7 linked regions of the Homo sapiens genome follow. The protein of the gene in region 3 purifies or fractionates together with the protein of the main gene of each other region. This does not show direct contact. Each region holds a gene or a part of one and is shown on either strand. Other genes may lie near its edges. The genes, in order: SLC12A2, RNFT1, MS4A15, EDEM1, ANO5, ZMPSTE24 and SNX14.

Region 1 (3,645 bases), on a different chromosome or scaffold from region 3:
AGAACTTGTACCATCTTTTCCCCAAAAGTTAAACATTAAACTACCATCTATTTCCTCTGGACCTACAAACTTCCTATAGGTACATAAACATAAAGAGGGAAGCATATCAAATGGATTTATCTTTTCTTCCTGGTGAGTGAACAACAAAAGCCTGCTGGCTCAAAGGTGAATGATGTTCCTGTTTTAAAAACTGTTGGATGGTCTGATATTAGAAAATGTCACATACATAGTTGCCTTCAAATTCTCTTTTAGCTTTCCAAATAAGTGAGTAAACTGGCCTGAATAGTGGCTTGAGAATAAGGAAGATGACAAATCAAAAAATGGATATTTACATTTTGTTTCAAACCTATTAAAGGCAGCCTGTAGCCAACCTATATTTCTAACTATAATTTGCCTTACCTGAACACACATTTACTGGGCGGACAGGTGTAAGTAATTTGGAAATGACCAATCTGGAAATGACCAATCTATCCCAGCCATCTATCTTATGGATCAGCCAGCAGTGAATGCATAATAAAGAAATTCCTGGGGATAAAAGACCTGGGCTCTAGACCAATATCCTTCCTTGATTTACCCCATGACCTTGGAAAACTCCCTAAACTGCTCCAAGCTGCTTTCTCAAGAGTAAAAGAAATAGCTGTCCTGCATATATACACACCTACAGTCATATTCAAATGAGAAAATGAAAATGCTTTCTAAAACTCTAAATGAGCTTAGACAAAAATCTTTGGAAGGAAAGAATCAGATTATATTCAGGGACTATGAATCGCTTTTAATCTTCCAGTTTCCTCATTCACAAATGAGAGATCTGGCCCAAAGATAAAGCAGAATTAGAAAAGCTAGGTCACTTAAAAAAATACCATAATGAGCTGCATCTCAGATGGTTCAGTCATACTGTGAGCATCAACAGTGATTATTGCAAAGGTTTAAGAATAGTGAACGACTTTTCCAGGGCGTGAATATTAAGGTAAAAGCTATTTTAAAAATTCAGAAATGAATGAAGCAATAGTTATCGAAATGAGATAAAACCACAAAGCTGGCAAAGACTTATTAAACAGATATAAGAATGGACATTAAATAGGTTTAATGAATCCACTTCCTTTATTGCAGTAACCTCTGTACAAAGCAGCAACTGCAATACTCAAGGTTAAAACATTAGAAAAGCATTTGTGTGACAGGTATATTACAGTATTATCAAAATATTACATTTTCAGACTTACTTAGCAGATAATCATCCACCAGAGCTTAAATCTTTAAATTATTTCCATAGTCTTAAAAAATATGTAATGTCAGAATGCATATAAAAAGAATGTAAAAGGAAACCTAAAATACAAATGGAATAATGTAACAAATAAATATTTGATTTCAGTAACTGTTAATAATCAGCTCAACACCACCATTCTCTCTAAACTCAATTTAATTCTTATAGGAATAATGAACTGTCAAATGCCATGGCATAATTATTTATTTCCAAGCTATCATCAATGATTAGAACTAAAAAAAATTTGGCATAAAAAAATCACAATTCAGCATAAATAAAGCTATTTTTAGCTTCAACACTAGCTAGCATCTCTAAGAATTGTTGAAATAAGTACTATAACCTTGAAAATTTTCGACCTGGTGTCTAGTGTTAAGTGAAAGTAATGCATTTTTTTTAAGTGAAAAGCTTCTTACATTATTTCACAGACAGTATTACCCACCCCACATTATGAATAGTTAGATATATTTTATGTACTTTATACCCACATGTATGACGCATGACATTTGGTTCCTGTAGTACAGATCACAATGTTGTTTTCCTGAATGGGAAAAACTTAAAAAAAAAAAAAAAAAAGGTAAGTGTACCTGTGCACATTTCAAGATAGCAGCACTCAGTCCATGCCCTATTATCCATCTTAAAAGTTCACACATTATTGTTTACTGAATAATATTTCTACTGTCTTTACCCCCAAACATTGCAAAACCTGCAATGGAACAATGCTGTGAGTTATAATGTAGAAATTTTTTTTTTTTTTTTTTTTAGAAAATCAGTTACTTCATTTTCTTAATATTCTGAATTCAAGTTATCAGATCTCTATACCTAGGTCATACTCATGAAGCAAAAATGCTGCACACCACTGAAAATAATAACGTTATAGATGTCTATCAAGATTCATGAAAACCAGCCAGGCGCAGTGGCTCGCACCTGTAATCCCAGCACTCTGGGAGGCTGAGGCGGGTGGATCACAAGGTCAAGAGATAGACACCATCCTAGCCAACACGGTGAAACCCTGTCTCTACTCAAAATACAAAAATTAGCTGGGCATGGTGGCGTGCACCCGTAGTCCCAGCTACTAGGGAGGCTGAGGCAGGAGAATCGCTTGAACTGGGGAGGTGGAGGTCGCAGTGAGCCAAGATCACGTTACTGCATTCCAGCGTGGCAACAGAGCAAGACTCCGTCTCAAAAAAAAAAAAAAAAAAAAAAAAGGATTCGTGAAAACCTGCATAAATTTTCCACCACAGAAACTTGTATCAATTAACCCACTTAACAGTATTTTAGGCGAAGTATTCTCCATTTTTGAACTGGAAAATTGTGTGAAATTACAGCATGCCCTTCAAATGATCACCTTTGTTCTCTATGAAACCTGTATCTGTTAATCTGATTTTGAACATATGTTTACTTAAACCAAAGTTTGCCTAATGAATCTTGATCACTTTAAAATGCAAAATACCAGCAACATAAATTTCATTATATATACACATATGCATCTGTGTATGCATATTACATATATATACACACACACACACAAATATGTAGACATAAATCCCTTGAAATGTTTTCAGGAAATCCTTCCTTGAATTATAAATGAAAAACTTCACATTAATAATTTCATATAAAGCTTTTAGTAACAGTACATATGCACTGTCAAAATTTTACTAGACTATGATGTCAAAACAGACATTTCAAAAGCACAAACTGGCAGTTTTTCTTAACAAAAGTTTTAAAATATTAAGAATGGATTAAATTTTAATATTCAGAATAATCTGTTCAAACCTGAGTGTATTAAGACTAAGTGTACTTGACAATTGAATGAATTAAGCCTAAAAACATTTCTCTAAGAAACCAGTGGTCCATTTAACCATTTGATGAAACATTATTTTAATGACTTATAAAGGATAGTACAGTATACTGAAATTCCACTTAAATACTGAAATATTCTACTAAATGACATTGTTTTGTCTAAATTTCCTCCAGAAAAATCTGTTAGCATTTCTTAAAAGTCCCTCAGATTTGAGGGAAATTCTAAATTAGGACAGTTTTCTCTCCAAATAAATATAAATGATCTTGAGTATTTTTGTTTAAAGAATGACGTGATTTTTAAGCATGGTATATAGAAGTATGGGATGAATCTTCAATCTTCCCTAAGGTTTCAATAAATAATAATAAATATAGTAATAATAGCCAATCAGAGGGGTTAAAAAGGTATTTGGGGGGGCTTTTTTTCCTAGCTCTATATTCACATATACTCATATAAACCTTACCATGGGGTTACTTTTTGGTTACCATTTCCCCTTCCCCATTTTTGATTAACCTGCCCTAATTCTCACCTTTAATATCTAACAGATACCTTTATAGAATTAACAAAACACATACAGTACTCAACA
Region 2 (4,439 bases), on a different chromosome or scaffold from region 3:
TTCCTGTTCCTCAAATTACATAAGTAATGCTGTACTTCTCAAATCTCCCTGGAACCAGGCATTTGAAAAACTTCCCAAAGGATACAAACATCTCAAAGCTGAGCCATATACAGAACCACCTCTTGAGTGCACCAAAATGAAATCATTAAATAATACATAATAGGATTTTGAAAGATTGTTAGATCTACTAGCTTTACAAAGGATGATAGTGCTTCAAATTCAACATAACTGGCTTAAGAGACTAAGCAATCTGAAATGTAACTATTATAAAATCTATAGCCATGTATTATTTGACCCAGGACTGCCAAATTGAGCTTATTACCTGCAGCAGTGGTTCATAAAGTCAATCCAGCCAGAGGTTGGCTGGTTGAATGTAACTCATGTGGAAAGCTTGCTTTAAAAATAGATTTCTCTGTTCCACACAATATCAATTCACTAGGACCAGACATATTGGGATGTGACCCAGTAATCTATTATTTGAAAGGTCTCCAAGTGAGTGCAATATGAAGAAGACTTAGGGACCACTGAAGAATTTTCTGCCACTAGGTCTAAAAATTATTCGAAATTATAAAAAGCATTTAGTGCTAAACATAAAAAAGTTTTACGGAGAAACTGCAACTGTAAATGTCGCTTTGGTAGAATAACTACTGTCAAAACTAACTGAACAAAAATGCAATTATTTGAATTTTCTTCTCTTCTAATGTCCTAATAACAAGTTACTCGTCTCTAAGATTTTAACCTCCTCACCAGATTCAGAACTTAGTCATTAACTAGATGTGATGTCAATAACCCTCAGTGAAATTTGGAGAAATCAAAATGTTACAAATGAAACCTGCTTTCTGTAGAAATGATGGGGAAGAGGTAACTAAAGAGATGTAAGAACACCCAAGTCAGTCACGGTCATGAGGGTAAAGCATGACTTAACATAGCTGAAGTTATCTAAACTTCTTGTACTAAAACGTCTCAGGCTAACAACATCAAAATCAAAGTAAAACTCAAAGGATAAAGATATTAAAAATTGAGGTTTTTTGAAACTGGTAATAAAGATTTCAGAAATAAGTCAGGATACTGTTAGATGATCTTGGTGTCAATTTCCCTTCAGTAAGGTGTCATTTAGCAAAGTACATTTGCAGATAATTATGCTGACAAGCTTTTAAGACGTTACTCATCTGGCATCTTGGAGACTCCCTCTCCAGATAGTAACTGCCATTTCCCTGGTAAAGGAGACTTGAACAAATCCAAGTATTGATGACTGATATCCTCTCTGTAGTTTGTCTCAGAGAAAGAATATCAGGGTATTTTCTTGAGAGTATTTCGGCACAAATCTTACAAGACCAATTATAGTAAAATGGTTGATGCTCACATAATCATCAGTTGAACTGACTTGGACAAAGCTGAACTCTCTGAATTTTATTATGTCTTGTCTAGAGAAACAAGCTTGCATAGGATGTAGCAAAGTTTGTTTCTACATTGCTAACTCTATCTTAGGGAAAAGGCCCTGGCCAGTTAGTCTCGTTTACTTTGTAGACATAATTCTTTTTTTATTTTTACGGTATATTATTCGGTTGGCATTCTTTTAAGTCAGTCTCCTTGGGCCCTGATGAAATGACTGCAAAATTGAGAATCAAACCCTGAAGTCTGCTGACCACACATAGGTACTAGGAACCTTTCAGGCTACTAAGTGGTAAATTAGGGTTCTCTATGACATCCTTTCACTGCAATTTGCAACATCAATAGAATCACACAATAATGTTATAAATGACACCAGAGACTCAATTAATTGTTAAATTTCATGCCATGAACGTATTTATGCACATATAATTGAGCAATGGGGAAATCTGCTCCAGTAAGAAAACTGCAAGAGACATGATTTTTGGCAGTGAGCTTTCTAAACAATAAATTACAATGGAAGGATTTTCACAGGTGAATAAGGAGTTAATAGGAACAAACAAAGCCCCCATTTGTGGATTAAAAAAGAGGAACACAATTTCATAAGATTGTTAAGGGTTTACAAGCCTTAAAAATGTCCAGTGGATTGAAGAGGCAAGAGACAAGTTCAAATATATAAGCACTGCAACAATTAGCAGGTGGTTGTCAATGTGTGATTCAAGAATCTGATCACAGAGATAAAACTCCTAAATTATTATAGCCCCAAGTGCCAAAGTACTAGAAAATAATCAAAGTAAAAGAAAAGGATCATCTATTTATGAAATCCATTCTTGTAAAACTGCTGAACTAAAAAAATTTTTGCAGTGAAGAAAGGTGAAGGTGTTTTTCTTAACTGATAAAAAGTACTTACTGGTTGTGTAAAAAATATTCGTAAAACCTGTCTGAAAGTTCTCAGATGCCCAAAAAATTCCAAAAGCTGAAAAGAGAAATAAGAGATCATTTATTAATTCAAACAGTCCTATTTGCTAAACCCAAAAACCAAAGCTGAAATCCCATAACATCAAATCCTCATATTAACTTAATGTTCATTATATGTCACATCTAATCATTTTGTGCTGAGTATTTTATTCAATTTATAGATTTGAGCCATCTCAGCAAGCTGAAGTACATTTAAACACCTAGAGTAACAATTTGATCAAGACAAATACAACTATGTCAAAGTCAAAGCAATTTTATCTGATTCACCTGTTTTTAACATTTAGATTTTAAAGTTTCATAAAGTGATTATTAGGTTGAGGGGTGCAGGCATGGAGAGAACAGGACAAGATACTCTACTAGTTTAAGAATTATGTGTATGACAATGTTACTGTTGAGGATGGGTATGTTCTATTCCACTTGTTTTCCCTACTTAGATAATCCACGCTATGTGAAGGTCGACTCCCCTTCCCTCCAGTGAAACCTGAGGACCGCTGGATTAAGATAGTCTATTTCCGTTTCTCCATTTCTAAACAAATATAGAACCTGCTATTACTTCAAACTAGTGATATGAAGATAAACTATAAAACTGTTAAAAGAGGAAAACAGTAGTATGTATCAGTAATCATTAATGTGAATCATGCAGTGACAAGATTTGTAATGTTACCTACTTTTAATATGAGGTAGAGTAAAGCCAGCAGTATCCCAAGACTCCATCTAGTTACGTTACCAAACTCCCCATAGCTTATAAGGTAGCGAAACCAAACTGGTATGGGAACAAAAGTTCGGTAGTATTGACACAATTCTTCTAAAAGCATATACCAGTAACCCTAAAAAATAAGAAGAAAACAAATAGAGCTACCCAAACTACTTAACTACATAGCACAAACAATATTAGACTGAGAACACTGAGTATATTATACAATAATATAAATAACTATAAAATTAATCTTCATAATGATTATGACTGAACCTCAAGCTGGTTCTCACATATTACAGTCACTGAGTGGCCTGCTTTGAAAGAATTTCTAGGTTGGACGCAGTGGCTCCCAGCACTTTGGGATGGGCAGATCACCTGAGGTCAGGAGTTCGAGACCAGCTGGCCAACATGGTGAAACCCCGTCTCTACTAAAAATACAAAAATTAACTGGGTGTGGTGGTGGGCACCTGTAATCCCAGCTACTCAGGAGGCTGAGGCAGGAGAACTGCCTGAACCCAGGAGGCGGAGGTTGCAGTGAGCCAAGATCACACCACTGCACTCCAGCCTGGGCAACAGAGCGAGAGACAATCTCAAAACAAAACAAAACCAAAAAAAAAGATACAATGAGAATGTTTTATGTATACTGCAAGTAAAACCTATGTGAGTATGTTTTTGCTGATTATAAGAATTTAAAAGTTTTTAGTGCATATGGGAAACCACTGAATAATTGTACATAGTCAACTGTCAATTGATAATGCCCTGGAGAACAGAAGTACACATCTAAATAGTTTCCCACATATGATGTGGGGACTGATTTTAAAATTATTCTGAAGCAAATATAATTCTGATTTTATCCAAATAGGTTAATAATCAGGTTCAAGTGCCTGAACAAATGGTTGCTAAGCTGAAATAATACAGATAATTAAGCTAGTTAGCAAACTGAAAAACTGCAAAAGGAGGATTCATTTAAACAAAGACTAAATAGCATTAATGTGATTCGATAACATCACTCCAATAAAGCATAAGTGAGTTTCTTACCTTAGATTTAAAAGGCATGATGAAAGAAGGCACCAATAAAATAAGGCATTTTAAGCCCATGAAAAAGAATTTCAGAATGAAGTCTGTAATTCCAACAATCCAAAATACTTCCCAGAAGCTCAAATGGTCCAAAGTAGGATTTAAAAAAATTAAGCTACCAAAAGAAAAACATCAAAATTTATCAGAGCAACATACAAAGATAAAGTATTAATAAAGGGTTTTAATTTGCTACAAATATTTTATTTTGATATGTAAAAAATATGAGTTTGGCAGGATGTCAGAGTTCACAATAATGGAATGGAGGATCATTTTGCTTAAAGAGACTTTTTAAACCTGT
Region 3 (4,439 bases):
AATGGCCGGAGGTGGGCAGAGGCCACTGGCGTTGTTTGGCGGGATGACAACAAACACTCCATTGCTGGCGGGAGCTGCAGACATCGTGCTCAGAGAGCCTGGGAAACAAAGGCTTGGGAGATAATAATGGCAATGATGATTGTCACCCATGTGCATAAAGCTTTTTAGTTGATAAGCAACGTGCCTACTTCCCTTGCTTACTGCAGCCCTGCCAGTATGGCCCCAAACGCTCTCATCAAAGCTGGGGAAGCTGAGACTCAGAGAAGCGAAAGATGTCTGAGGTCAAGGGCCTGTAGGTGGGGTAAGACTGAGATTTGAATTCTAGTCTCTCTGGTTTCAGAGGCCTTGCTCTTAATCTCTGAGCTATATTATGTGGAAAGCTCCTTTTGGAGGAGTGTTTATTTAAATGCCCTTCTTTTCCCAGAAAGGGCAAGTGACTTACCTAAGGACACACAGCTAGTGCAAGGTAGAGCTTAGCTAGAGTACCGGTTTCTTCACCCCGAGACCAGGACTCACTGCCACTTCCTGCCTCTCAGCTCTCAACTATTGAGCTAGCGTCAATAATTCCCCTGGGTATGGGAACTTCCCACCTGCTGTGGGAAGCTTTCTATTTGGCCACCCAAGCAATTACCATTGATGTAGCCAAGAAATGTGTAGATATGGAAACTTTATGCAGAGTTTATAGCTTGCAGTGAATGCCAAGAATGAGTTCTTAGACAATTCCAGCTGAGTGGGCCTCGAGCGGGGGTGGCGGGGAGCTCTTCTGAGAGAGTCCACCCCAGCATCTGTCCGCCAAGTATTTATTGAAAGAGCTTGTTAAACCACAAACATCCACTAGATGGCTTTTTGAGGGTCATGAGACACCTATGACCTTATAAAAGCTCTCAAACCACCTTCTTAGGAGGCTGTTTTCAGCGTTCCTTATTACACACCTCAATCCTTGTCCTGTTTTTAGGGTCAAGGAGTTACATTCTCATGCATAAATAACATACACAGAGTGCCTCAGTATTTTTCCATGCCCCAACCTCAAATGCCATGTACATAAGCTTGGATATGTTGCCGTGCACCCTCAACATCTCCCCCTTCTTTAATTTTTAGAGTATGTTGGTTATTTAAAGCGAGGTAAGCTTTTATTGCTTTTTCTTGGTTATAGATGCACTGAGTGACAGCACAGAGCCATTTGTACATACCTAGCAAACAAATACAAAAAAGAATAAGTATATTGGCCATTACCCAAATGTGTATGTTTAACCCAGATAACTAAGTGTTTGGGTTTAACTATTGAAAGCCTTTTTATAATTGTTGAAGGGTATTTGTTTATAATTGCTGTGACCATTTTTTAAGTTGTTTTTTAAATTTACACTTAAGAGTGGGAATTTGAGAAGACTAATGATTGTGATAAGCCCCTTGCAGGTGTGTTTTCACTCTCTCCCAAGCATATTGGGAGCTATTATATGGCAGAGGTGTGACATAGATAGAATTATATTGCCAATTACAATATAAATGTTGATGGGTAATGAATGCCAGCTGCTGATCCCCCAGCCATTCAACTGCAGCTTTAAGAGCCTCCAGGTGAGACAGAGTAGTTTGATTAATATTTACCTGTTTTTGAAATTTATGGGTTACATTATATACCATGTGGTTCACCACTGAAGCTGTGTGAATAGATTTTGTTAGAAAAAGCAGCTGCAGTAGCAGCAGTTGCTAATATAATAATAGCTGAGACTAAAAAAGCAATTAAAGTGGCCAGAAATCTTTTTTTCTGAGTATGAGACAGTGCTTTTCTAAACAGCTGCAGGGTTGAATCTCCTTCCCAGCTCCAGGCTAAATTTACAGGCAGCCAAAATTCTGCACGCCATTTTAAGATCATGACATAGGTTATATTTAACTATGTAACATTTCGATGAGACAGGCATGTAGCATACTAACTACTGGAAGAGACTTTACTACTATAAAAGGATTGATTCTGCTCTATATTAGGAACACTTTGCCCAAACAAAAGTATATAAGAGTGCGTAGTACAAATCACAACTATGTCAGTAACATTATTATGGAAACAGAGGGTATAATTGCCACTGCTAGTAATATACTCATCATGTGAAAGAACCCATTCAAAAAAAGGAAGTTCTAATCTCCAAATTTGGGTATGAGCAGGGCTTAAAGCTTGTTTCCCTTTTAGTTGTAATATTGGTCCTGAAAGCCTGTACTCTGACCAGGTGATAGACTTACTGGGGACTCCCAGATCCAATAGTCTGATTTGCAGACATAAGATAACCATGGGGACTCCAATCAAGTAAGGTGCCATTATCAAACAGAGGCCCTTGACATGGCGCAGGCTGTCTGGATGGAGACCACTGAATGGCCTCAAACTTATATCCCCAGTCCCTACTCAGACGGCATATAGGAAGATCAGGCACTTGTGTAGCTTCATTAGAGACCTCAGTAAGATTAGTGGTAATAGCAGAAATAAAGGTCAAGTTTGCAAGCTTAGCATCCCTTTTACACTGATAGTAAAGATACTCCTGAAGAATAAGAGTAACACACTTAGCATGTGCTATTGTGGAAAAACAAAGAGGGGGATTACTAGACAATACAACCAAGGAGTTATTAAGTTTAATCCATCCCAAATTTTCCACTGAAGGGTAAGACAGGGGCATCCATCGACCTCTCGTCCAAGAAGTATCATTAGATGACAAAGGCAGGTCAGCATCCCACCATGAAATAACATTAAAAACAGGGGGATTTAGAACATGACTCCAGTAAACATGTTCTTGAGGTGATCCCACTTGGCAAAGGACAAGAATTACCAGCCACCCCAACATCTATGTCGTCTTACTTTCTCAGAAGTTTTCCCAATTACCCCCAGATACATAAGAAACTGATTCTCTGCAGTTACAGAGGCTTCTATGCCTGCAAGCCGGATAGTTGCCTGTTGATCCAATTTCTTTAGCTGTCCCCAGGTAATGTCAGGTGCCTTCTGAGTCATCACCGTCATTGTCAGTCGATTCTCCAATGACAGGTCCTGTTCTCGAGAAGAGGGCCCGATATTCCCCCTTTTTTGTTTATTAAGATATACTTTACGAGTTTGATGAGCTTGTTTAATAATGGCCTGACTGGTTGAGTTACAGAGAATCCCAGTCTTGGGTTGTATGTTGATCTTATTGCCAAAGTTGCAATGCATAGCCAAAGTGAGCACTAAGATAGCAGGGGCCATTATCAGTTTTACAGTTTGTGGAAGGCCTGGAGTCATAATAGATTCAAACAAATGAGCAACTGCATCTTTAGTTTTTTCTCCGGCATGGGGATAGCATGTATTAGGTCTATATAAGTGTCCACAGTAACATGGAGAGATTTAAAACGTCCAAAGGGTGGATACTGAGTAACATCAGTTTGCCAGATAGCATTAGGCACCAGACCTCGTGGGTTGGCACCAAGTCCTAAGGAAAAAGGGGAAAGAGAATGCCATTGGCAATCAGGATAAGTTTTAATAATCATGTGAGCTTGAGCAAGTGTTAAATGAAACTGTTGTTTAAGACTGCAGGCGTTCTGATGGAAAAAAAGCATGATCAGCTTGAATTCGCAAAAAAGCAGGAGAGTCTGCAAACCACATCTGTGTGTGTACCAGAGCATTAGCTCGAGCGTTCCCTTCTGATAAGGGACCAGGTAGCCCAGAATGAGAGTGAATATGTGTGATGTAAAGAGGGTGATGATCGAAGGGGGCTTGCCCCTCCACACCTGTGGGTATTTCTCGTCAGGTGGAGACAAGAGACTGAGAAAAGAAATAAGACACAAAGTACAGAGAAAGAACGGTGGGCCCAGGGGTCCGGCACACTCAGCATGCGAGGAACTGCACCGGCGCCGGTCTCCGAGTTCCCTCAGGGTTTATTGATTACTATTTTCACTATCTTGGCATGGGGGGTGCGGCAGAAGAACAGGGTGAACAGGGTGATGGTGGGGAGAAGGTCAGCAGGAAAACATGTGAGTAAGGGAATCTGCATCATAAATAAGTTCAAGGGAAGGTACTGTGCCCAGATGTGCACGTAGGCTAGATTTATGTTTCTCTTTACCCAAACATCTCAGTTAGTAAAGAGTAACAGAGCAGTATTGCTGCCAGCATATCTCGCCTCCAGCCACAGGGCAGTTTTCTCCTATCTCAGAATAGAACGAATAGTCGGCTTTACACCGAGACATTCCATTCCCAGGGACATGTGGGAAACAGAGGACTTCCTCTTATCTCAACCACAAAGAGGCCTTCCTCTTTTACTAATCCTCCTCAGCACAGACCCTTTACGGGTGTCGGGCTAGGGGATGGTAAGGTCTTTCCAATCCCACGAGGCCATATCTCGGGCTGTCTCAGTCGGGGGAAACCTTGGACAACACCCAGGCTTTCTTGGGCAGAGGTCCCTGCGGCTTTCCGCAGTGCATCGTGTCCCTGGTTA
Region 4 (4,439 bases), on a different chromosome or scaffold from region 3:
ATTGACAAGTCCACAGAAGACCGGATGGAGAGCTTCTTTCTCAGTGAGACCTGTAAATATTTGTATCTGGTATGTGTGTTGCAAGATGAACCCAGGAATATTTAGTATTGCTTAGAGCAAGCATTCGCATAGTCTTCCATCTGACAGGTACTTACTGGCTAAAGCTATGTGCTGGACATTGTGCATTCCCAGGATGCAAACGCTGTCAGAACCAAAGGATATTACTATCTTCTTTCATGGTTTCCAACCTTGTTGAAAAGTCATTTGTCAAGTAAACCAAGAACTGAACTTATGATTACAAACTGTGGGAAATCCTGGTAACGATTGATACAGAACCAGTGTTAGTTCTGTATCTAACTACAGGTGGTCGGGGAAGACGCCTCTGAGGAAGAGAGCTGTGTTCATAATGGCTTCTCACTTCTCTTGATGTATGTGATCTTAGCCAAGACCTGCAGCTCAGCCTTGTCTCTGTCCATACACACATCCTCAGGCACATGAGTGAGTGAGTGTGTGTGTGTGTGTGTGTGTGTGTGTGTGTGTGTAGAGAGAGAGAATTTCTGGACCTGGACGAACCCTTTGGTATTACCTAATGTTCATATGTTCATCATTTCCCTCACAAGAACTACAGCCTACACAGAGGTCAGGCGACTTGCTCAAAGTATGGCGATGGCTGTGGCAGAGCTGAGGTGTGAACTGTGGTCCTGACTCCCTGTCTGGTGCTCTTTCCATCTCACCGCTCTGCCTCGTGCATACAGCCACTCTCGTGCCCCCTGCCACTTTCCTCAGTATGGCCACATAGAAACAGAGGGCAGGATTTCCAGGTTAGAAGATAGCATGGCAACTGAGAACTTGGGCAGAGGGTCAGAGATAGAAGCAGCTGTGATAAATTGTGTTTATCTAGTTCCGTGGTTCCTAGGCCTGGGGCTAGCTGGGTCCAAATCACCCTGGGGCCCTTGCTAAGATGACAGCCATATTAAGTCAGAATCTTCAGAATAAGCGGGCTCAGAAATCTGTCATTTTGACAAGTGCCTCCAGTGGTTTCACATGAGCCAGGTTTTGGAGCTGCTGGTCTAATCCATTAAGACGATACTCTTCTCTGTCTGGGGTCTTTTCACAGATGACTGCAGAGGTATGTCCACCAGCAGCCCATGTGATCTGTCCAGTGGGAAGACAGCTGTCCTGCTGTCGATTCCTGTGTGTGCAGTGGTTCTTGCTCTCCTTGCAGGTGGCTCAGTTCTGCTAAATCAGGCTGGTCAGAGCCTAGCTACATATTTCCATCCAGCAGCCACTGGTGTCAGAAGGACGTTAACAGGGCGAGTTTTAGAGTAAAAGGAAGGTGACCCTGGAGGGTGTGCTAGCTGAAAGAACCTAGAGTCTGGGGAGAGGAAAACCTGTGGTCTACCCTGTTCTTCTCTTGTTACTGTGTAAACATTGACAAGCTGCACTGAATCTCATTTTTCCTCATCTTGAAATAGTTTAGGTGACCAATAAAGTTTCAAAGAGTTTCTAGGTATTCATTCATTCAACATTCACAGAACACTTGCCTTCTCCTGCACTGTTGCATCCCATATTGGGTTAGATGTTCTTTCTAGATGCTCTTTCGTTCCGTGTCACATGCACCATTGAGGGAAAGGACTGTGCCTTGTGTCCATTGCGTCTTCAGAGCCCAACCCTTGTTGTGCAAGAAGTGAAGTGAATGTTGGCAGATGTGTTGGGCTCTGTGCTAGGCCCTGGGGAAATGGTGGTGGATAAAACTTGGTCCCTCCCTGTCAGCATTTACAGTTCAGGGTCTAGGTGTGTGTGAGGTTGGGTGTAGTTCTAGAATTCCAGCAGGAGAACTCTTAGGTAGCACATGGAAATCATCCAGTGAACTTTTATAGACTACCTGTGCTTGGGCCTTAGTTTCAGAATTTCTGAGTCTCTGCGTCTGGGCAGGGTATGTGTAGGGGAGAGGCAGGTCTGGGCATCTGAGTTTAGATGAAGCAGGTGATTCTGCCTTGCAGCCTGGGTTGGGCACCACAGTTGTCAGTCAATTCCTTTTCACCCAGTTGTCACTGAGAAGCATGAGGCCCAAGCAAATTCTACTCCCTGAGTAGCTGGGACACGCCCCCATGATTCAGTTCCCAGTGTGCTACAATTATTGGTTGTATCTTTTTCTCCGTTCCCTCTAGCTGTTTGATGAAGACAATCCAGTACACAAGTCTGGAACCAGATACATGTTCACAACAGAGGGACACATTGTATCTGTGGATGAGCATCTTCGGGAATTGCCATGGAAGGAATTCTTCTCTGAAGAGGGAGGGCAGGACCAAGGGGGAAAGTCTGTGCACAGGCCGAAACCTCATGAGTTAAAAGTCATCAACTCCAGCTCCAACGTGAGTTGCTTTTTCCAGGGGTGATTTGCATATAGAGGAAGAGAAGATACTATGAATTGCTTAGTTGTTCAGACTTCCTGACAGAAAATTGATGGTGTATGCAGATTGGGAGATTTGAAAACACCTCCTAAAGACACCATTTACATAGCTGTTGTCAGGGTATAGGGAAACCGCAGGAGCAGCGGTGGCATCATCACTGCTGGCTGCAGGTGCTGGTGGGGAGAGTGGCTACAGGATCCTGGAAGGGGGGAGCCTTGTGGGAGGAGCGAGCACTCAGCAGGAGCCACGGCTCAGATCTGACTTTCAAGGCCTTGCCTGGAGGGAGCCGGCAGAGTCAACATGTGACCCCTCCCCGCTCCCCCAGTTGCCTGCTGGAGCATCTTCTTGGCTGCCTGGGGCAGAAGCTGGAGGCCGAGGGAGCCTGTTGATATGATCCATCAGTGGACCTGGAGGGGCAAATGGAAGACATTCAGCAAAATCATTTACCAGCAGCAGAAGGGAAAAAAAGCAGTGATGGTCACGATGGTCCCAATGAAGATGCTCTTCGAAGTGCAGCAAACACCCACATTCATTTAAAGTGGGGCTTTACTCCACATGCCTAGATTGTCCTGAGAAGCAGCAGGAAAAATTTGGAAATGGAAGTCCTTGCATCCCTAGTGAAAGTATCAGGTAGTTGTGTTGATTTGAATCAAATAGGATGATTTGGAAGTGAGGATAGGGAAATGTAGGTCAGTCAAAATTTCAAATCTTGTTATCCCCCAGGGCCTTGGTGGTCAGGAGTTCGGCAGCCTCCCCACAGATGGGTTGCCTTGGCATTAGGGGTGCCCTCTCATCGCCGACTGTGCTTCAGTGCTTTTCCGTTAATGCCCCAGTGAAGGTCTTCACCATCAGTCTATGAAGTAAATCGATAGGCCAGAGTGTAGATAACCACCCCCGCCCCCATTTCCATCAGTCATGGAGCGCTGATTGAGTGGACAAAGCATAATCGGGAGGAAGGGGAAGGAGGGTGAGAGGGGGAAGAGTTAATAACAGCCAGCATTTGCAAACACATACCAGGGTTAGCCTTTGCACCATTCTAAACGCTTACGTACATTAATCTGTTTACTTCTAACAACAGCCCTGTGAGGGGTGGTTACTTTTAACATCTCCATTTTACAGCTGAAGAAAGGGAGGCACAGAGAGGTTCAGGTCCCACAGTGGAGCCAGGATTTGGACCCAGGCAGTGTCTTCTCTTTTAGGAAGGAGACATCTCTGACCTGCCATACTCACTAATAGATCTGATCCCATGATTCCAGGCACCAGGGATTCAGGCCCTCAGAAGGGCTCCCGGTTCTGGATAGGAGCATGGCCTAGTGGGGAATCCACTTCCATCCTAGGCGTTTGTCTGTAGTGCTGTTGAAACACAGAGGGTAGGGAGTAATCTCCAGAGAAAATCAAGGCAGGATTCCCTGAGGAGGTCACTTGCTGGAGATCCTTGAAGGATGAAAAGGGGTATCCCAGAAAGGGTGTTCAGGCAGAAGCAGTAGCACCTGCAAAAGCACAGAGATGTGGGCTGGTGGGGGCAGTCGGGACCAATGGAAGGACCGGCCAGTCTTGATCTTGCCAGGGATGAGGAGCAGGGTGTAGTAAGTTCAACTTACTACAAAGCGTGGGGAAAATGTTTCTTTGGAGATGAAGCAGATAATGAATGTATTTAGACAACTGCTTCCAGGGATGTCACAGTTGGTTAGTTCTCAAGATGTGCATCTGCTTTGAGGAAAAAAAGTGGTGGGGGTGGGGGGGTTTTAATTAAAGAAATAGTCTTAAGCATTTAGAGTTTAGTGAGTTGTGAATGAGAAAAACATAGCTCAGAAAAACACAGTATTTTCAAGTAGCAGAAATGTTTTCTGAAATTCTGGGCGGACTAAGGACCCCAGGGATGTGGCTTTCAGTCCTGGCCACGAAGCAGTTGCTGCGATGCCTTTTAGCTTCCCTGGATCTGCCATTTCTTTATAAAGTGAGTGAGGATGTTAAATTATGTCACTGGTCTTCACCTGAGGGTGATTTTGCTCCTCAGGGAACATT
Region 5 (4,439 bases), about 38 Mb from region 3:
GAAGAAAAGTGATTTTTAAGAAATAATTTAACAATTTTCTAAATTAAAATCAACAAATTAATCAATATACATTGTCCTGCATCCATTAACTACTAAGAAAACACATTTACTTCTGTATTGTGTCTTTGCTTGAGAACCTGAAGCAATCTAACAGCTTCATAATGTTGCTTTCCAGATAAGATCAGTCTTGAAACTATTATAACCAAATTATTATCTCTAAGAACCAAGTTGTTTTATGTTGAAACCCAAAATTTCAGTCTCGAGAAAAGGAATTCTGCCTTTACCAGGAAGAACTATCTGGGATTCTGATGGTAGTTGAATGTGTTAGGAATAAACCTCTGCTATGATACATTAACACCTTAATGTGTGAGTTTTCTTATGTCATCTGATCTTGGCAATTCATTTGCATATTTTAAAATGATAGGATATATAGGGCTCAGTCAGTCTCTTTGATCCATTTCTTTTTGCCCCAACATTTTTCTTAATGGGGAAGGAGGTATCAAATAACCCAAGAGAAGACCACAAAAATAAATAGATGCACTGGAAAGTGATGGGACAGCCCAAGGCCAGTGTTTCTTACTAAACTGCAAGACTCCATAATTTCCCAGTATTCTGATTCTACCTGCACTTTCAACAGTCATTTACAGCACCTCAGAAAACAACATCTGGAGAGGGCCCAGTCAATGAAGCAGAGAAGTAGTACATTTCCAACATCACAAAGTTGGCCTCTATAAAAGTGTATAAAAACTTTGAGTTTAAAAAAAAAAAGAAAAAAAAAAAAAAGAAAGGGTAAAATTGACACATGGCTTCTGGCGTCTGGCCCTAAAACCAGAGGATAAAGTGAAGTAAGGCAGATCACCTGCTGCTTCCTCACTATACTGATTAGAGTGTTGATTTAGCCAGCTGTGCTTTGTTTTCCTCAATCATGACATGCTTGGCAAATTCATTAGAATTAATTCCCAAGTTCTCTTTTAATTTGTTGAGCTCAAAATCATGGAGAATCTTGATAGTCATTAACTTTTCTCTCTTGATTCTCTCCACAACATCTTTTGGAACATCAGGTATCATCCAGGCCAGCAAAAATTTAACTAAAAACACAACATGCTAGAGGAAATATAAAGGAAAGATTAGACGCTGTTAGAGGTGTCACATGCTCAGCAGAAAGTCTTTACAAATCATTTCACTTATTTAAGAAACTGCTCAACATATGAGGTAGAAAGGCAAGGAAGAAGATATGGTCTCTGTCCTAGAACTTTCATACAAAGATCAACATCAAACAAATAAATATATACTTAAATATGTAACTAGCAATATTCCAGTTGAACATGATTATTGAATATACTCTTTATCACTGCTCCTTCCTGAAAACCTGATAAAATATTTATAAAGGAATTAGACTCAAAAGAGTGAAAAAGGCTAGCAAACTTGCAAATGGTGATGTGGTGACTGATAGTGGAAACCAAAAAGACAAAAGCCAATTTTGTTTCAGATGGTCACAAAAGTTCAGGAAAGAAGGCAATAAGGACTTTTGAAGGTATTAGTTTGAGTTGGAGTTGAAAACAAGAGGATTAGATACAAATCTGCATAAGGAGCACTTGAATTTTTGGAGCCTTTCTCCCATCTGTATCCAGGTATTCTTTCACTCCATGCTATACCCTGGAAGCAGCTGAAGAGTTTGTTTTCTGCAGAAATTATACCACAAAGCTGTGAATCCAGGGGCACCAGACACAGTGGAGGTATGACAACATATTGAAAAAAAAAAAAGTAAAAACAGTGAAATTCAGCACAATGAACTGTGAGATACATAGCCCCTCTGCCTTGCTCAGGTCTTAGAAAATAGGTAGCCACAAAATATCTCAATAGACAGCTATAAAGGGCTTTCTCTGGGAAAAATAACTATTCTGTAAAAGCAGAACTGTGGATGTCAAAATTTTGTAAGGATCCAGTGAAAATATCAGCTCACTACGTTATCAACCTACAGTGAAACCCACCAAGTGACATCACTCCTGTATGCACAAAATGCTTAAAATCAGCTTTTCACTTCCACACTCTTAAACATGAGCAGAACCACCAAATATGTAGGTAAGTCATCTCTGACATGGAAAAAAAAAAAAAAAGGAAAAGAACCAGATATAAGGAAAGGAGTAAAAGAAAAAAGTAGAATTTTAAAAAAGATATTAATCCAGGTTTTCATAGAAAACAAATAATTAGAATTTCAAACTAGGAAGTGTAAATCTGAATAACAGCAGTTCCAGAGAGACAGCACAAAGAAAGAAAAAATTTATCAAAGACATTATCAAAAATTTATCAAAGAAATTATGCCAGCAAATTTTCTCAACTTGAAGGGTAAGTACGTTTTTAGATCTAAGGGGCTCAATGAGTGTTTAAAACAATGAATATTGACAAATAGCAAAGAACCATCTTGTGAAGCTTCATAAAAATGGGGCTAATGACAGAATCCTAAAACCGTATTGATTTTAAAAATAGATAATACACAAAGACTGGGGAGTCAGAATAGTATTGCATTTTGTAGCAATACTGGAAGCTGAATGAAAATGAAGCAATATCTTCAAAATTTCAGGAATACCAAAATAAAGTTGATTAAAAATTTTTTTAAGAAAAACAACTTTTAATTATACATTCTATTCCAAATAATCACATGTAAGGAAAGAAAAGAAATTTTCAATCTTCAATTTCTCAAAAATGGACTGCCCATAATTTTTCCTCAGAAAATTACTAGAAGATGTGCTTCACCAAAATAAGCTAGTAAACCAAAAATGGGAGAAACATAGATTGCAGAAAATTTAGTCTTCAATAGAAGACAAGATGAAGAGAAGTCCCAGGATGATGCTTGGTTGGAGCCTGCAATGATTACAAAAAATTAACACAAATAATAAATAAATTAAAACAAAAGAATTCCGGAAGTAATTTACTGGCTGAAAGGTGATCTAAACTTCTGACGCAAAATGTTGGAATGAAAGACTGATAAATTCATAAGGAACTAAGAGACAGAGGGAGAAAAGAAAAGTACAATTATAATAAAAGAAATATGTTCAGAATATAAGACAGGAAACAGATGTGACTAATATTTATAAAGTCATAATTTATAAACCCTGACTATTGTATTTATATAAAATCTCTTAATCAAAACTCTGATGGACAGAAATATTTCAGAATTGAGATTAAATATTAAACATATGTAATTTAGTGTATAAACCAGCAGGGTCTCAGGTGGCACTCTGTATCAAACACTTAAATATTTCTGCAGCAAAGTAAATGAATAGTCACACTAAAAATAATAAAGGCAGAATTAGATCATATGTTGCTGCTAAATAAATTATCAAAATACTTCCTGTTTTCTGAGGTTTTGAATTTCAGAATGAGACCAAAAAAATATGCTTTAATTATTGAGCAGTAGGAGAAAGTTTTTTTTCCCCCTCTCTCTTTCTGTCTGTGTGGGTGTGTGTGTGAGATCTGCCAAAGTAGAATGTCAGTAATTGATAGCTCAACCTAAAAAATAAAAATATATAACTGCAAAATGATCTTCTTTTGCCATACAAGGGCAACTACTAGAAGAATGAGTTAAAAAAATTGAGAAGTTTACTTTGGATATTAGGATTTTAGGGTAGGCAGGTATATTATGTACGATTGCTCTTTTGTTTTTTTCCCATGCAGAACTATTTGATTTTTAAAATTACATGTGAAACCTTGATAACAATAAAAAAAAACAGAAACTGGTTGGAATGGCATGTTCTTGGGTTAGGATTGTCTTTTATCGGGCTTTATTCCAGGGTGAAAAAGTACCTTTCTTTTATTTTCTCTCCCTGATAGGCCTTCTTGCCCTATGATTTGTATCACTCAATTTGAAACTTTGCCCAATACTGCCTCTGTATTGTTTACCTTTTCTTGCAGGCCTTATCTCTATAACTACACTAGATATTCCACAAGAGAGGAAGCATAATATAGTAGACAGAGCATAAGCTTGGGAGTGAGGCACATTTGGCATTGAGACTCAGCGCTAATGTTAGTTAGTTAACGTTAAGCCAGCTACTTATTTTTGCTGAATCTCAGATTCCTTTTCAAAGGTGAGCGATAAGGTCTAATTAACAATGTTGTTATGATTTAATACAGCCTCTGGAACTAGTAAGTAATAGGTATTCTCTAAAATCAGTGGGTTATTTCCCCTTTTCCTGACTTGAAGGGAAAAAAACCATATTTGTTTTCCTTTCCTTTTCTGTCACCATGACATGTTCAACAATAATAAGTGAATAATAGGCAATCCATTGTACTAAGAATATCCCTAAGGTGCTTTTTATGACTACAAATACAATACTTCCTTCAAGACAGTTTACTGAGATATTGCTAACTTTCTGATGAGAGGTTACCTTTAGAAATATCTGCCTAAAGAGAGAAGAGAGTAACTCGAATGAAAGTTAAGA
Region 6 (4,439 bases), on a different chromosome or scaffold from region 3:
ACCTCAGGTAATCCACCTGCCTCAGCCTCTCAAAGTGCTGGGATTACAGGCGTGAGCCACCACGCCTGGCCAAATACTGGTTTTGTTTGTTTGTTTGTTTGTTTTTTGAGACAGAGTCTTGCTTTGTCACCCAGGCTGGAGTGCAGTGGCACGATCTTGACTCACTGCAACCTCCGCCTCCTGGGTTCAAGCAATTCTCCTGCCTTAGTCTCCCAAGTAGCTGGGACTACAGGCGCCCGCCACCACGCCCGGCTTTTTTTTTTTTTTTTTTTTTTGTATTTTTAGTAGAGACAGGGTTTCACCATGTTGGCCAGGCTTGTCTCGAATTTCTGACCTCAAGTGATCCGCCCACCTCGGCCTCCCCAAGTGCTGAGATTACAAGCATAAGCCACTGCGCCTGGTCCAAATAGTGCTTCAATAAGCAGTTTTTCTGCTTAAATCAGCCACAGTTGGTTTCTATTGCTTGCAGAATTCTAATACAATGTTTAGTAGGTTCCTCAATATGTAATATAGCCATTAGAAGTCTTAATTCCCCACAAACCTACTCTTCTCCTATTTTTTTCCATCTCAGGAAACTACCATATATCTAACTGCTCAGGTCAAAAGTCTAGGCCATTATCTTTGATGTCACTCTTTCCCTTATTCTCCCAATGCAATCAATTAGAAAATTCAATCAACTCTACCCTAAAACTTGTCCCAAATGTATCCACTTCTCTCCATTAATTACTATTATCCTAGTCTAAGCTACCATTATGTCCTACCTAGACTTTTGCCTGTCTCTACAACATATTCTCCATACAGTAGCCCAGGATATTTTAAAAACACAAAGCAGATCATGTCACTTTCCTGTCTAAGCCTTCAATGGCTCTTCCCACTGAACTCAAAATCCAAACTCCTTACCCTGACTTACAAAGGCCTATGTGGACTGATTCTTGCCTATGTCTCAGATTTCATCTCCTAACACTCTCCTGCTATGGTGCAGCCACACTGGACTTCTTCATGGTCCTTGAACATCTTCCCATTGACGTCAAATGGGCGGCTCCTCCCTTTAGGTCTCAGCTCAATCTGATGACCAATCTACAGTATCAACTTATCAGACCAAACTAGTTTAATTTGCTGCATAGCACTTGCTATCTGATAATATTTTGAGAGCAAGATTCTTGGCTTTTCACTACAATCTCCCTACCAATTTACAAATATGTAATGTGTGTTGTTATTGTCAGCAACAACATTCATTCATTCAAAATATTTTTGAGAATTGTTACTGTTGTTAACAACAATTAAAACATACATTATAGGTGAGTAAACTGCTGTTTGGCAAAGCTAAGTTGCGCAAAGTCACACAAGTAGTTTGTCTCGAACTCCTGACCTTCCACCTCAGCCTCCCCAGTAGATGGGATTACAGGCTGGAGCCACCAAGCCCAGCACTGGTAATCTGTGGTAGAGCTATGATTCAAACCCAAGCCTTTTGACCCTGAAGCCTGACGTCTGAAATGCTGCCCCCAACCTACTCAAATCTTGACTTCCCATTAACACCCAGCTCAGGTCATAACCTTCCATAAAGCCTTCCCTGACTATTTTATCTAAAATGAAAATAGCTCTCATACTCTGGATGTTGTAGGGGGAAAAAAAAAGATAAAAAGAAAATAGCACCGATATATTTCACATATTCTATTGACTACCTCCACTGTCATAGCATTAACTATTATTTCACGTTATCTGATTGTAACTTAAGGGATCAGCAACTTAGGTTGCTCCTTCAGTAAAAGCAGCTTAGAGACTATTCTGTTGTACTGATTAATGATTAAATTTCTAGTTTAATATTACCTAAAAAAAAAAGAGTAGTTATTTCAGAGGCTAAAGAAGTAAGTATGAACTGGCTTATTCTACCATTTCTCCACAGACTTTTAAGCTACTCCAATCGTGCCTTTAGTTGGGCTGTATATCCTCAGGAGCCACTAAATGTCTGACATATATATATATATATATATATATATATATATTTTTTTTTTTTTTTTTTTTTTAGACAGAATTTGGCTCTTGTTGCCCAGGCTAGAGTGCAATGGCTTGATCTTGGCTCACCACAACCTCCACCTCCAGGTTCAAGCGATTCTCCTGCCTCAGCCTCCCAAGTAGCTGGGATTACAGGCACGCACCACCACGCCCAGCTAATTTTTTGTATTTTAGTAAAGACAGGGTTTCACCATGTTGGCCAGGCTGGTCTCGAACGCCTGACCTCAGGTGATCCGCCTGCCTTGGCCTCCCAAAGTGCTGGGATTACAGGCGTGAGCCACAGCGCCCAGCCAGATGTCTGAAATTTCTATGTTCTTCCAGTTGCTGTTGATTCATTCTTTTCAGTTGTGACCATCTCTGTTCTCCTCTAACCCTGTGATTGTTTCTGCTTCTATTCCTTCATCTAACACTGCTGCTTCTCACTGGTAATATTTTATTTTAGAGCAGGGATCAGCAAACTGTAGCTCACAGGCCAAATCCAATCTGCCATTTATTTTCATAAAGTTTTATTGGAACACAGCCACACTCATTTGTTTAGTATTGTCTATGGCTGCTTTTGCGCTATAATAGTAGCACTGAATAGTTGCAACAGAGAACAAGTGGCCCGCAAAGCTAAAATATTTACTATCTAGCCCTTTACAAAAAACATTTGTGAAACCATAGCTTAGAGGAAATACAACTGAAACCCAGAAGGGTGAAGTCACTTGTCCAAGATCCTATAACTGGTAAGTGGCAGGAACAGAACTATTACATTCATTTATATGGACTTTATAAATTCTGAAAGTCATAGAACCTTACAACAGTTTCTCTCTACATCTCCGTAGTCTTCTTTGAGACTTTAATAGTCAACTACCAAAGTCTCAAAGAAAGTAATAGACTGGGTGTTAATGGGAAGTCAAGATTTGAGTAACGGTCAAGAGACCACTTAAATCTCAAAAGTAATCATCAAAAAAGCAGAGTATAACAAATCTGCAGTACTCAGTGGTACTGCAGTCTTTGGTAATCAATCTTCAGGTGAGTCCTCCAGAACACTGGATATTTTCTTGGAGGAGACAAGGCCAATAACACTGGCTTTGTTTAAGAGCCTCCAAACTAATACTAAACAGAATTTGACTATTCAAGAGTCCAACTTAACTACCTAAAAGAACTAGGCAGATAACAGAAGTGAATAAATCAGTCTAATATATAAGATAACATAACAGAGAGTGAAAAAGCCTTGGCCAAAAATTTAAAACAATACTGTAAAACCAAACAAACATAGCTGCAGACAAGAGCAGGATTTGGTATCAAGCCACCAGTTTCTATCCCTGGCCTATGTTATCAATTTCTGTAAATCTTAAAAAGCCAAAAGGTAAACTCCTAGCCTTTAAATAACAAATTTTAAAAAGAAAAAAACAAAAACTGATTAATTCTTTTATTAAAATTTTAAGAATAAAGTATCAAATAAAACAAACCACTTGGATAAAACTTTCTTATCCCCAGGTAGCCTTACCTTCCACAACATACACCTTCGTCAAAGGAAAGTCAATACTCTTTGCCATTACTTCAATTTCTTCTTTAAGCTTTCCCTCAGGCAGAGGTGTGAATTTGTCAAATAAAGGGGCAATATAATCAGCATAGATTGTGACAAGAACCTGAAAAGTAAATGTCAGAATAACATATGAACATGTTCTTAAAGAAAAAACATTCTTTATTATACAGATTAAATTATATTAAAACAACTATGTTGACCTCAAACTTGAGAACAAGGAACTTACTTGCTCTGGTATTCCCAGGCCCAAATAGTACCAGATAGTAAGAGCATAATATCTGTCTGATGAATTAAATTGAAATGAGTAGTCTGATAACAGAGTAAACTTATGAATTTTATTTTAAAGGATAATGCTACTAACAGTGATTAAAATCTCTAGGTGGTAATAAGTATAGTCCTTTCAAAACTATCTTGGGGATTTCTGATGCTTCATGAGTCAATCATAACACGCAGTTCTACCTTTTAGCGTAATCACAATAGACCTGAAGTCTTTCCCAAAAAAGAATTAGTAGAACTTGATTGTGTGCTGTTACTTGGTTGGCTTATCAGCTAAAATTAATTACCTGTAGTTCATAATTGTACAATGTGGTTGAAATAGCACTTCCTTAAGCATTTTTAGAGCATTTTCTCTGCTCTTTTTCATCTTACTTTAATTTGCCATACAATAGATACCTGTAAATCCAACTAGCGCCCATTTTCTGATCTTGATCCCATCAATGGAAAATGAAACAATGAGCATTATGTAATTCAGACTAAAATAAACCTCAGCTTGGGCATGGTGTCACACACCTGTAGTCCCAGCTACTCAGGAGGCCAAGGCAGGAGGACTGCTTGAGCCCAGGAGCTCAAAGCTGTAGTGCACTATGATCATGCCTGTGAAATAGCCACTGTACTC
Region 7 (3,631 bases), on a different chromosome or scaffold from region 3:
AGAGAGCGAGGTTCAGTGTTTTCACAGAATATAGCATCTAAAAAAGAGTAAAAAGAAATATTTCTGGAATTTTCATCTATTTATACACAAAGGATTTCCTCATAGTAGAAATACTAATAAACCAAAGCAAAACAAGATTTCTTCCTCTTTAGATTCAATTAAAATCATAGAGTACACAAAATATGAAACAAACACATTAGAAAATACAAACCTCTGAGAAGTGTTATGAGTGAGACCAAACGGTGCTCCTGAAATAGCTGTTCTAGTTTACACTGAAGATAGTAATCAGTATACATTTCCAGGGTGTTTTTAAAGAGGATTCGAGTTCCCATTAAGAGATGATGAAGCCAGTCAGGAACCTGGAAAACTACCCGTCCTGAGAAAGGATCAAATGGGATACCTCATTGTTCCAGATGAATTGGTATTTTTGAAATTTGCCAATGTAGAAAACACAAATGACCATGGTCAATATTTTATTTGTAAACACTAGCAACTTTAATATGATCAAGGCCAATCGTATTGAATTATTATAAAAGGTATCTTCAATTAAAAAGACAGTTATGATGGGGCAATACTCAAGATCATTATTTGCATCACAGAAGAAGTAAGATGAATGAAAAACAAGTCTTAAACCACTTAGATCTTACCTACATACATCAGGTAATCATAGACTCCTTCTACAGTCATCACCTCCATAAAATAATTCTGATTTTGCTTTCTCTCTGTATTTTCAGCACGGTTTGCATTATTTTTAAACAGATCATTGAAAAGCTAAAATAAAAGTTGGAATAATAAAGAGATATATAGTTTATTACATCTGCTGACGATAATCAATAAGGATTAAGTGTCACACAGCAAAGGCATTTAAACTTTTTCCAATCAAAACAGAATATTAGATAGGTTAATATATGCTTCTAAAATTCCCCATTTATGCCCCGAATTGCAATAAAAAATACATGTTCCCCAAAAATATTACATAAAAACTAAAATATTCATTTTAGTTACAGTAGATAATTCATTATCCATTAAAGACCCCTTTGTTTTTACATACCACAAAAGCAAAGTAACATAAAAAGATGTACAAATATATTATTGATAGCTAACTTTAAAACTAACATGATTTAGGCCAGGCGCAGTGGCTCACGCCTGTAATCTCAGCACTTTGGAAGACGGAGGCAGGCAGATCACCTGAGCTCGCAAGTTTGAAATCGGCTTGTCCAACATGGTGAAACCCCATCTCTACTAAAAATACAAAAAAATTAGCCAGGTGTAGTGATGCGTGCCTGTAGTCCCAGCTACTTGGGAGACTGAGGCAGGAGAATAGTTTGAACCTGGGAGCCAGAGGTAACAGTGAGCCGAAATCGTGCCACTGCACTCCAGCCTGGGTGACAGAGCAAGACCGTCAAAAAAAAAAAAAAAAAAAAAAAAACACTAACATGATTTAAAGATTATAAATCACTATAAGTAGAGGTAAAAATCCAGCGTTAGGTGAAATTTATTTGGACAATATTCAAAGCCCACAAAGGCCTAATCAATGTTGGGGTGGGGGGGAACTAAAACAAGATATTAAGAATTAATGGTTGCAGTGAGCCAGAGATTGCACCACTGCACTCCAGCCTGGGTGACAGAGTGAGACTCTGTGAAAAGGGAGAAAGAGGGGAGGGGAGAGGGAAGAGAAGTAAGGAGACTGTGGAGGAAAGTATATTCGATTTTACCTGAAGATGAATTTTTTAAAAGCCTCCTAGAAAAGTATCCTGAGAACAAAGACCATATATTCTATTGGCTCTTATGTCAGATATTATTAACACAGACACATACTTAAAACATTTTTCCCCAACCCAAAAAATAGGAAAAGGGCTCTCCCTTCTGATATATTATTCCCTCTACTCTTTTAAATTTTCAGTGTAATTTTTTTTTTCACTAAAAAACAGTGATATTATATAGTAAGTCTGGAAAACGGGAAAAACAACTCAATTTTGTTTTCCCTCTGTATTTTCAGCACGGTTTGCATTATTTTTAAGCAGAAATCTAAAATAAAAGTTGAAATAATAAAGAGATATACAGTTTATTACATCTGTTGACAATAATCACTAAGGCTAAATAAAGTGACACAGAGCAAAGGGGCATTTAAACTTTTAAATTAAAACTCAACCACCTAATAGTGTTACTATTAAACTTTTGTATATTAACTTGTACTCTCTATATACATAGCCACAAATCAATGAGGTTCAAAAAATATCACATCCTACTTTTTCATTTAGCACCATATCAAATATCTTTATGTTGCTTTATAGTTTTCATAAGCACAATTTCATCTGCTGCAAAACACTCCTTGAATAGATGTTCCTTAAAATAATCATTCCTACAATGTTAGAATTTCATGTTGTTTCCAATTTTTCACTTATGTAAACAATATTTTAATAAACACCTTTACATGTTATAAGCTCTTCTCTTATTTTTCTCCCTGACAAATTCCTAGCATTCCTAGCATGAGTTCAATAGGTTATATTTTGTAACCTTCATGACTCATGAAGTAATAAACCTGAAGAATTTTGTAATTGTTAAAGAAATTAAATTGGTTATAAAAAATCTTCCTACAAACAAAACTGGAGGCCTAGATGACTTTACCAACTCTATCAAATATTTATAAAAAGTCTACCAAAAATAAAAAATGCTAATAAAACTTTGATACCAAAACCTAACAAGGACAGAATGAGAAAGAAAAATTATAGGCTATATTCTACCCATAAACATGAATGTAAACTTCCTTAATCTTTTTTTTTTTTTTTTTTTTTTGGAGACAGAGTCTTGCTCTGTCCCCCAGGCTGAAGTGCAGTGGCGCGATCTCAGCTCACTGCAACCTCCACCTCCCAGGTTCAAGCGACTCTCCTGCCTCGGCCTCCCGAGTAGCTAGGATTACAGGCACCCACCACCACGCTTGACTAATTTTTGTATTTTCAGTAGAGGCAGGGTTTCACCAAGGTGGCCAGGCTGGTCTCAAACTCCTGACCTCAAGTGATCCATCCACCTTGGCCTCCCGAAGTGCTGGGATTACAGATGTGAGCCACTGCACCTGGCAACTTCCTTAATCTTATAAAGGTTATCTATTAATACAAAAAGAGCTACACCACACTATTCGATGGTGAAATAATTAAACAATTTCCTTTCTATATAGCAGTCCTAGTCAGGAATAAAACAAAACTGCAATCATCTGCAACAATTGTGTCAATATAAAAGAATTACCAGATATTACTAAAACTAATGTTAAGTCTAGCAAGACGACTAAATAAAAATTTTCTATCTATATATACAAGTTATAAAATGAAAACATTAATAATATTAAAGATACCATTCAGAGTATTAACAAAAATAAAAGATAGAGGTCCTCTGAGCTTCCATAGCTCCCCATGCTGGGCACTACACCTTGGCACTAAACACCTTCTTGAGGACAAGGAATGTATCCTTATATTCCCAGTGCCTAGCACTCAATCGTAGGCATGTAATAAAATGTTTGTTTAATGAATGGATAAAATACTTTATAAGCCATGAAAGTTAGGTAATGCCATCCAATAAACATAAACACAGTATAGCAATTAATTTCTTATTATTGAAAGTTGGTGACATATAACCT

Evidence for each region.
Region 1: the proteins of MS4A15 (region 3) and SLC12A2 purify together in Homo sapiens (affinity purification with mass spectrometry; one large-scale study listed by BioGRID and IntAct). This does not show direct contact.
Region 2: the proteins of MS4A15 (region 3) and RNFT1 purify together in Homo sapiens (affinity purification with mass spectrometry; one large-scale study listed by BioGRID and IntAct). This does not show direct contact.
Region 4: the proteins of MS4A15 (region 3) and EDEM1 purify together in Homo sapiens (affinity purification with mass spectrometry; one large-scale study listed by BioGRID and IntAct). This does not show direct contact.
Region 5: the proteins of MS4A15 (region 3) and ANO5 purify together in Homo sapiens (affinity purification with mass spectrometry; one large-scale study listed by BioGRID and IntAct). This does not show direct contact.
Region 6: the proteins of MS4A15 (region 3) and ZMPSTE24 purify together in Homo sapiens (affinity purification with mass spectrometry; one large-scale study listed by BioGRID and IntAct). This does not show direct contact.
Region 7: the proteins of MS4A15 (region 3) and SNX14 purify together in Homo sapiens (affinity purification with mass spectrometry; one large-scale study listed by BioGRID and IntAct). This does not show direct contact.

Annotation. Positions count from the first base shown.
Region 1 is NC_000005.10:128,187,111-128,190,755, reverse strand, and holds the end of SLC12A2 (solute carrier family 12 member 2), read right to left. Parts: 3' UTR 1,079-3,645; downstream 1-1,078. UniProt on the Homo sapiens protein: Cation-chloride cotransporter which mediates the electroneutral transport of chloride, potassium and/or sodium ions across the membrane. Plays a vital role in the regulation of ionic balance and cell volume.
Region 2 is NC_000017.11:59,954,189-59,958,627, forward strand, and holds part of RNFT1 (E3 ubiquitin-protein ligase RNFT1), read right to left. Parts: intron 4,257-4,439; coding exon 4,103-4,256; intron 3,195-4,102; coding exon 3,036-3,194; intron 2,366-3,035; coding exon 2,300-2,365; intron 1-2,299. UniProt on the Homo sapiens protein: E3 ubiquitin-protein ligase that acts in the endoplasmic reticulum (ER)-associated degradation (ERAD) pathway, which targets misfolded proteins that accumulate in the endoplasmic reticulum (ER) for ubiquitination and subsequent proteasome-mediated degradation.
Region 3 is NC_000011.10:60,759,379-60,763,817, reverse strand, and holds part of MS4A15 (membrane-spanning 4-domains subfamily A member 15), read right to left. Parts: intron 113-4,439; 5' UTR 85-112; coding exon 1-84. UniProt on the Homo sapiens protein: May be involved in signal transduction as a component of a multimeric receptor complex.
Region 4 is NC_000003.12:5,211,148-5,215,586, forward strand, and holds part of EDEM1 (ER degradation-enhancing alpha-mannosidase-like protein 1), read left to right. Parts: coding exon 1-69; intron 70-2,171; coding exon 2,172-2,375; intron 2,376-4,439. UniProt on the Homo sapiens protein: Extracts misfolded glycoproteins, but not glycoproteins undergoing productive folding, from the calnexin cycle.
Region 5 is NC_000011.10:22,276,209-22,280,647, reverse strand, and holds part of ANO5 (anoctamin-5), read right to left. Parts: intron 1,105-4,439; coding exon 883-1,104; 3' UTR 1-882. UniProt on the Homo sapiens protein: Plays a role in plasma membrane repair in a process involving annexins. Does not exhibit calcium-activated chloride channel (CaCC) activity.
Region 6 is NC_000001.11:40,271,102-40,275,540, reverse strand, and holds part of ZMPSTE24 (CAAX prenyl protease 1 homolog), read right to left. Parts: intron 3,648-4,439; coding exon 3,506-3,647; intron 1-3,505. UniProt on the Homo sapiens protein: Transmembrane metalloprotease whose catalytic activity is critical for processing lamin A/LMNA on the inner nuclear membrane and clearing clogged translocons on the endoplasmic reticulum.
Region 7 is NC_000006.12:85,513,859-85,517,489, forward strand, and holds part of SNX14 (sorting nexin-14), read right to left. Parts: intron 772-3,631; coding exon 648-771; intron 377-647; coding exon 212-376; intron 38-211; coding exon 1-37. UniProt on the Homo sapiens protein: Plays a role in maintaining normal neuronal excitability and synaptic transmission. May be involved in several stages of intracellular trafficking. Required for autophagosome clearance, possibly by mediating the fusion of lysosomes with autophagosomes.